2 linked regions of the Homo sapiens genome follow. The protein of the gene in region 1 interacts with the protein of each later gene in a biochemical or structural test. Each region holds a gene or a part of one and is shown in the gene's direction. Other genes may lie near its edges. The genes, in order: MORC3 and ERCC6.

What was found.
Region 2: the proteins of MORC3 (region 1) and ERCC6 form a complex in vitro, tested with the Homo sapiens proteins (one large-scale study listed by BioGRID).

The regions. Positions count from the first base shown.
Region 1 is NC_000021.9:36,326,406-36,330,223, forward strand, and holds part of MORC3 (MORC family CW-type zinc finger protein 3), read left to right. Parts: intron 1-3,502; exon of another isoform or gene 3,503-3,588; intron 3,589-3,818.
Region 2 is NC_000010.11:49,532,571-49,536,388, reverse strand, and holds part of ERCC6 (DNA excision repair protein ERCC-6), read left to right. Parts: intron 1-3,410; 5' UTR 3,411-3,424; coding exon 3,425-3,818. UniProt on the Homo sapiens protein: Involved in repair of DNA damage following UV irradiation, acting either in the absence of ERCC6 or synergistically with ERCC6. Involved in the regulation of gene expression.

The DNA.
Region 1 (3,818 bases):
GTCCCAGCTACTCCAGAGGCTGAGGCAGGAGAATCGCTTGAACCTGAAGGTGAAAGTTGCAGTGAGCCACACCACCGCACTCCAGCCTGGACAACAGAGCAAGACTCCATCTCTATATAAATAAATAATAAAATGTTTATTTCTTACTGTGCCTTATTTATAAGTTGAACTTTATCATACATATGTATACTGCAGTTTTAGGAATCCACTGAGGGTCTTGAGATGCATTCTCTGAGAATAAGGGGAGACTGCTGTACTCCTATCAGTGGAATTATACAATATTTGACTTGTGACTGCCTTATTCATTAATGTCTTCACGGTTCATCCATGTTGTAGTGTGCGTTAGGATTTCCTTGTTTGCTTAAGGTGAATATTTTATTGTATGTCAGAAGACAACATTATAAATTTAAAGATTTTTTTTTTTTTTTGAGACCGAGTCTCGCTCTGTCGCCTAGGCTGGAGTGCATTGGTGCGATCTCGGCTCACTGCAACCTCTGCTTCCCGGGTTTAAGCGATTCTTGTGCCTCAGCCTCCCTAGTAGCTGGGTTTACAGGCACCTGCCACCACGCCCGGCTAATTTTCGTATTTTTAGTAGAGACGGGTTTTGCCATGTTGCCCAGGCTGGTCTTGAACTCTTGACCTCAGGTGATCCGCCCACCTCAGCCTCCCAAAGTGCGGGGGTTACAGCAGGCGTGAGCCAGCGCGCCTGGCCTCAAATTTAAATTTAAAGATATTAATTGGCTTTATTTCTTTTTTTTTTTTTTTTTTTTTTTTTTTGAGACAGACACTCCCAGGCTGGAGTGTAGTGGTGAGATCTCTCAGCTCACTGCAACCTCTTCCTCCCATGTTCAAGCAATTCTCCTGCCACAGCCTCCTGAGTAGCTGGGATTACAGGCGCTCACCACCACACCTGGCTAATTTTTTTGGCTTTTGGTAGAGACGGGGTTTTGCCATGTTGGCCAGGCTCGTCTCCTAACCTCAAGTGTTCTGCCCGCCTCAGCCTCCCAAAGTGCTGGGATTACAGGAGTGAACCACCGTGCTTGGCCTTTATTTCCTATTCTGGAATTGGGCAACACTTCTTCCATAAAATACAGTAAGTGTTCTAGTGAACTGAACAGAGGAGGCTGGCTTTGTAGACAGAAAAAGGCCGAAAGAAAGCAGAAACAAAGAACAAAAAGCAGATACGTCATTTCAAAGTTAAAAACAATAGATAAATAACTGACTGACATTAGGTTACTTTTTGTTGTAAAACAACAAAATGGAGGGAACTTATTATCTGTCATACCAGTTGATGACTGAAACTGACCTGTTCGGTAAATTGGCTGTTATCTCCCTTGATTTCGCTGAAGGTCAGATAACAACTTAGTTTCAGTTTGGTGACTGAAATTTTAGCATGGGTGACTCCATTTTGATTTTTAGTCTGTTTTTGGAGGCCTAGAGCAGGAGCTTAGTCCAAAACAGTGGCCTCCTTTTTTGTTTTTTTTTTTCTGAGACAGAGTCTTGTTCTGTTGCCCAGTCTGGAGTGCAGTGGCATGATCTTGGCTCACTGCAACCTCTGCCTCCTGGGTTCAAGTGATTGCCATGCCTCAGCCACCCAAGTAGCTGGGATTACAGGTGTGTGCCACCAGGTCTAGCTAATTTTTGTATTTTTAGTAGAGACGGGGTTTCACCATGTTGGCCAGGCTGGTCTCAAACACCTGACGTCAAATGATCCACCTGCCGCGGCCTCCCAAAGTCCTGGGATTATAGGTGTGAGCCACCACGCCCAGCTGTCCTATATTTTTTATTTCACATTTACATACATTTGATATGATCAAAAATGTATATTTGTTCTTTGTCCTGGTTCTTGGCACTGGAGTTCCTGAAATCTTTGGTATTTCCTGATAACTATGAGTGGAACATCTTTTGTTATTTATAATAATAAGCCCCCCCCCGCCTTTTTTTTTTTTTTTTTTAACCACACCTTAGTTCATGCTCCCTCTGTCGCCCAGGCTGGAGTGCAGTGGCGCCATCGCAGTCTCCACCTACTGGGTTCAAGTGATTCTCCCGCTTCAGCCTCCCCAGTAGCTGGGACACAGGCGCGCACCACCACGCCTGGATATTTTTTGTATTTTTAGTAGAGACAAGGTTTCGCCATGTTGGCCAGGCTGGTCTTGAACTCCTAACCTCAGTTGACCTACTCACCTCGGCTTCCCAAAGTGGTGGGATTACAGGCATGAGCCACCGCGCCTGGCCAATTTTTTGTATTTTTAATAGAGACAGGGTTTCACCATGTCAACGAGGCTGGTCTTGTACTCCTGACCTCTGGTGATCCACTTGCCTCAGCCTCCCAAAGTGCTGGGATTACAGGTGTGAGCCACTGGGCCCAGTCTGTAATATCCTTTACATTGTATCTTTTAGCTTCCCTGGGCCACATTGGAAGAATTGTCTTGGGCCACATTGGAAGAAGAATTGTCTTGGGCCACACACACATAAAATATACTAACGATAGCTGATGAGGTAAAAAAAAAAAAAAGAAAAAGAAATTGTAACGATAGCTGATGAACTACAACAACAACAAAAAAAATCACGAAAGAAACTTCATAACGTTTTAAGAAAGTTTACAGGCCGGGCAGGGTGGCTCATGCCTGTAATCCCAGCACTTTGGGAGGCCGAGGTGGGCGGATCGCCTGAGGTCGGCAGTTCGAGACCAGCGTGGCCAGCATGGTGAAATCATGTCTCTACCAAAAATACAAAAAAATTAGCTGGGCGTGGTGGCAGTTGCCTGTAATCTCAGCTACTTGGGAAGCTGTGGCAGGAGAATCGCTTGAACCCGGGAGGCAGAGGTTGCAGTGAGCCGAGATTATGTCATTGCACTCCAGCCTGGGCAACAGAGCGAGACTCCATCTCAAAAACAAAAAAAAAAAAAGAAAGTTTACAAATTTGTGTTGGGCTGCATTCAAAGCTGTCCTGGGCCACATGCATCCCATGGGGGCTGAGGGTTGGACAGGCTTGCTTTACAATGAATCAGTGTTTTTTTTGGGTTTTGTGAGCATTATAGCACATTATCAAACATGAGGGGAATCATGTGAATGCCCAATTTATGGTTGGTCTGTCAGAAGTACAGGAGACTAAGGGTTTATAGTAGTTGACTAATTTCTCCTTGTTTGGTAGTATAAACCAAAAATAAAATTCTAAGGCTCTTCCAACCATTTTAATGGACTTCCTTCTCAGCCAGGGCACTCTTAACATTTAATCTGAAAGACTAGTTCAGGCCATGACAGGAAGTTGGGGTCAGACCTGCTTCATTATACTGCTCTGGCGTAACATCACATAACAAGGAAAGAAATAAAAATAATTCTAAATAGATTTCCTTGTCATATCTTGAAATTGCCTTGCAAAGTTTGTCTCTTGTGGAAAAAAATGTACATTGTGTAGAGAATCCTCTTTTCCCTTTTTTCTTTTCTTTTTTTGTTTTTTTTTGTTTTTGTTTTTGAGACGGAGTTTCGCTCTTGTTGCCCAGATTGGAGTGCAATGACCTGATCTCAGCTCACTGTAACCTCCGCCTCCTGAGTTCAAGCAACTCTCCTGCCTCAACCTCCCAAGTAGGTGAGATTACAGGCATGAGCCACCAGGCCCAGCTAATTTTGCATTTTTAGTAAAGATGGGGTTTTATCATGTTGGTCAGGCTGGTCTCAAACTGCTGACCTTGGGTGATCCACCAGCCTTGGCCTCCCAAAGCGCTGGGATTACAGGTGTGAGCCACCAGACCCGTCCTGAGCCACCGCACCTGGCCATTCCCTTTTTTTTTTCTTTCCAGATCCAGGAGATAATCAATT
Region 2 (3,818 bases), on another chromosome or scaffold:
CTTTTGGTACACCTTTCTGGGTTATCTCCTCTGTCTCCCTCCAGCCATTACGTGCTCTAGTTTTTCTTGCCCTAGTTCTCTCCCTACCCCCAACAAATCCATTATTACTTTATCACTGTAGCTGTCTCCCTGCCAGAGGCAAGCTCTTTAAAGGACAGGCCACTCTCTTGTGGCCTCCATTTCCTCATCCACTCCTTACACACCAACTACATTTCAACCACTACAGTCTGGTTTTTGGCCCTATCGCTCCACTGAAACTTTTTTATTTTTTCGAGACAGAGTTTCACTCTTGTTGCCCAGGCTGGAGTTCTGCGGTGTGATCTCAGCTCACTGCAACCTCTGCCTCCTGGGTTCAAGCGATTCTCGTGCCTCAGCCTCCCGAGTAGCTGGGATTACAGGCATGCACCACCACGCCTGGCTAATTTTTGTATTTTAGTAGAGATGGGGTTTCACCATGTTGGGTCAGGCTGGTCACGAACTCAGGTGATCCACCCGCCTTGGCCTCCCAAAGTGCTGGGATTACAGGTGTGAGCCACCAAGCCTGGCCTGAAACTTCTTTTACCAAGGTAAATGGTGACCCATTGGTATCCAAATTCACTCAGCCTTTTCTCATTCACTGGACGCTCTTCCTCCTTTTTTATTATTAGAAGTTTTCCCCAAACTTCTTTATTTTTAACCTTGTCTTTACACTACAATACTATTGCTTTTTGATATTATTTTACAGAAATAGAAAAATGGTTACTTAATATTTTTGGTTGAATTGGCATCCTTTTTTCTTAAAAAGAAATCCTCATGTGTGTACAAATAAGAAAAATGAAAACAGAATTGTTAACTGCCAGCTAGTACAGACACTCTGAGCTGGAATCCTGCTCTCTCTGTTGGAAAGTGAGGTGAGCTGAGCCTTCCTCTTGAAAATAATCAGCAGGCCCCAAAAGAAGGAACTTTCTCACTGTGTTGTTCACTTTTTAACCTTTCCAATGTTAGCCTCCTCGTACCCTCCAAAATGACCTTAGGTACCTGTCAGAGCCTTGGGAACCCTGGAACTGCTCACTCTGCTGATGTGTCCACATGTCACCCAGACTTTCCCTTGAGCTCAGATTTGCATTTCTGACTGCATGCTGCAAATGGTACTGATTACATGTAAGCTGCTTGCCAGTCCTGCTTCCTATCTGCTTCCTTTTTGAGAGTCTCATTTTTGTGACTGAATTCACTGGTGACTCATTTGTCCAGACCAAACTTTTTATTATTTTAGACTTAGCTCTGAACCTCACTTCCTTTCAGCAGATATTGAGCACCTCCTATATATCAGACCATGCATGGCCCATGTGTTCAAATCTCAGTTCCTCCGTGATATTTCTTGGGCCCCAGACACCATATATAGTTCGCTCGATGCTCGTGTGACCTCTTGTCCGTGTCCCGGGCTAGCTGACCTGCCCTGCTCTGTTGTTAACTGACATGCTGCTGCTCCAGTGGATAGCCACTCGGGTGTAGATGATGCTGAATTCTTTGTATCCCGGTGCTTTATTGCTGGGCTTATTTTACTTAATAAGGGATGAGTGGGGCCCACTGGGGGAACTTGTCATTTAACAGAAAAGTTACAGTGCTCAAAGAAATCTTATTCACAGTTAAACAAAAAGCAAGACTGATTTTTGGTTATCGTTTTGCTTTTTAATATATTTATTAGATGTGATAGTTGTATAGGTAATATAGTGAATATATTCTCCTTAAAGCAGCAGGTCCTGAGTATGTGGAGTACAATGTGAACATTCCCCCTTATTTTTCCCTGTGCTTTCTCTTCCCCATCCTGATTTGCAGGCTTAGTTTGTATCCTGCCAGATCATTCTGTGTGCAGGATAGATACTTTTTTCAGCATAAGTGTGTTCATACCATGAATTTTTTCACTTAACATGGCTTTTATATCAGTATACAGAATATACTTAGTAGTTACATTAAACTATTAAAAATGTGCTGCACTAAACATTCTTGCACCTGTGTGTGACTAGTTCTCTGGAATAAATACCTAGAATTGCTTGACAAAGGTCATGTGCCTTTAATTTAATAGATATTGCTAAGTTGTCCCTACAAGGGGCTTTACTAATTTATATTCTCAGCAGCACTATGTGAGGGGGGATCCTTCTCCTTGTCTGTATTGGATTTATCTATCAGGCTTTGAATTCTTGCTAACCTGATGGGTGAGAAATTATACTGTGTATTAAAATGGAGTTTTTTTTTTGTTTTTTTTTTTTTTTTTTTTTGAGATTGAGTCTCACTCTGTTGCCTATGCTGGAATGCAGTGGTGAGATCTCATCTCACTGCAACCTCCGCCTCCTGGGTTCAAGTGATTCTCCTGCTTCAGCCTCCCGAGTGGCTGGGATTACAGGTGCTCACCATCATACCCAGCCAATTATTGTATTTTTAGTAGAGATCGGGTTTCACCATGTTTGCCAGGCTGGTCTCAAACACCTGACCTTAAGTAATCTGCCCGCTTCAGCCTCCCAAAGTGTTGGGATTACAGATGTGAGCCATCGTGCCCAGCCTATTTTTGAGAATATTTTAATTAATCTTTTAAAAAAACTTTAAATTTATTTTACAAGGTCTTGCTCTTTTGCCCAGGCTAGAGTGCAGTTGTGCAATCATGGCTCACTGCAGCCTCCATCTCCCAGGCTCAAGTGATCCTCCTGCCTCAGCCCCTTGAGTAACTGGGACTATAGGTGCACATCACCAGGCCTGGCTAAGGTTTTAAATTTTTAGTAGAGACAAGGTCTCATTATCTTTCCCAGGCTGGTCTCGAAGTCCTGAGCTCGCTGTGTTTCCCTGGCTGGTCTCTATCCTCCCGCTTTGGCCTCCCAAAGTGCTGGGATTACAGGACTGAGCCACGTGCCTGGCCTAATTAATCTTCTGAGCTTCTGATTTGTTCAAAGCTCCTATTTACTGGATAGGTATTCAGCCTAGGAGTTTCTAGTCTCAGATTCACACAGAAGCTCTTTCCTAACATCGCTGTTCCTATGCATTACAGTTGATCTTGCCACTATATTATAAATCATTTGTGTCATAATGAAATGAAGATGCTAACTTGGAAAACAGCAGCCAAATGACTTCAGCTGTTTTGAAGAATATTCCATGGCCATCACCCCAGGATTTTGGTGGCTGGCTTTCTTAGCTGGCTGCCTAAATGTCCTTTGTTGATGATACTGCATTTCTTTTTCTGGTTAATTTTTCTTATTTATTATCAGAACTCAAGAAGATACGTTGTCCCTTTTTAGTAAATTAATACTTGGAAACTTGAATTTATGTAGTTGGAAGATTATTACTTGATCTTTTGAGAAATCAGTCTGCTCTAATTATAAAATATTTAAGAACTACAATGAATCCTATATAACGAAAAGGCTTATAAATTTTTTTCCTTTTAGGTAGTCTGTAGAGAATGCCAAATGAGGGAATCCCCCACTCAAGTCAAACTCAGGAGCAAGACTGTTTACAGAGTCAACCTGTCAGTAATAATGAAGAAATGGCAATCAAGCAAGAAAGTGGTGGTGATGGGGAGGTGGAGGAGTACCTCTCCTTTCGTTCTGTGGGTGACGGGCTGTCCACCTCTGCTGTGGGGTGCGCATCAGCAGCTCCGAGGAGAGGGCCAGCCCTGCTGCACATCGACCGACATCAGATCCAGGCAGTAGAGCCTAGCGCCCAGGCCCTTGAGCTGCAGGGTTTGGGTGTGGACGTCTATGACCAGGACGTGCTGGAACAGGGAGTGCTTCAGCAGGTGGACAATGCCATCCATGAGGCCAGCCGTGCCTCCCAGCTCGTTGACGTGGAGAAGG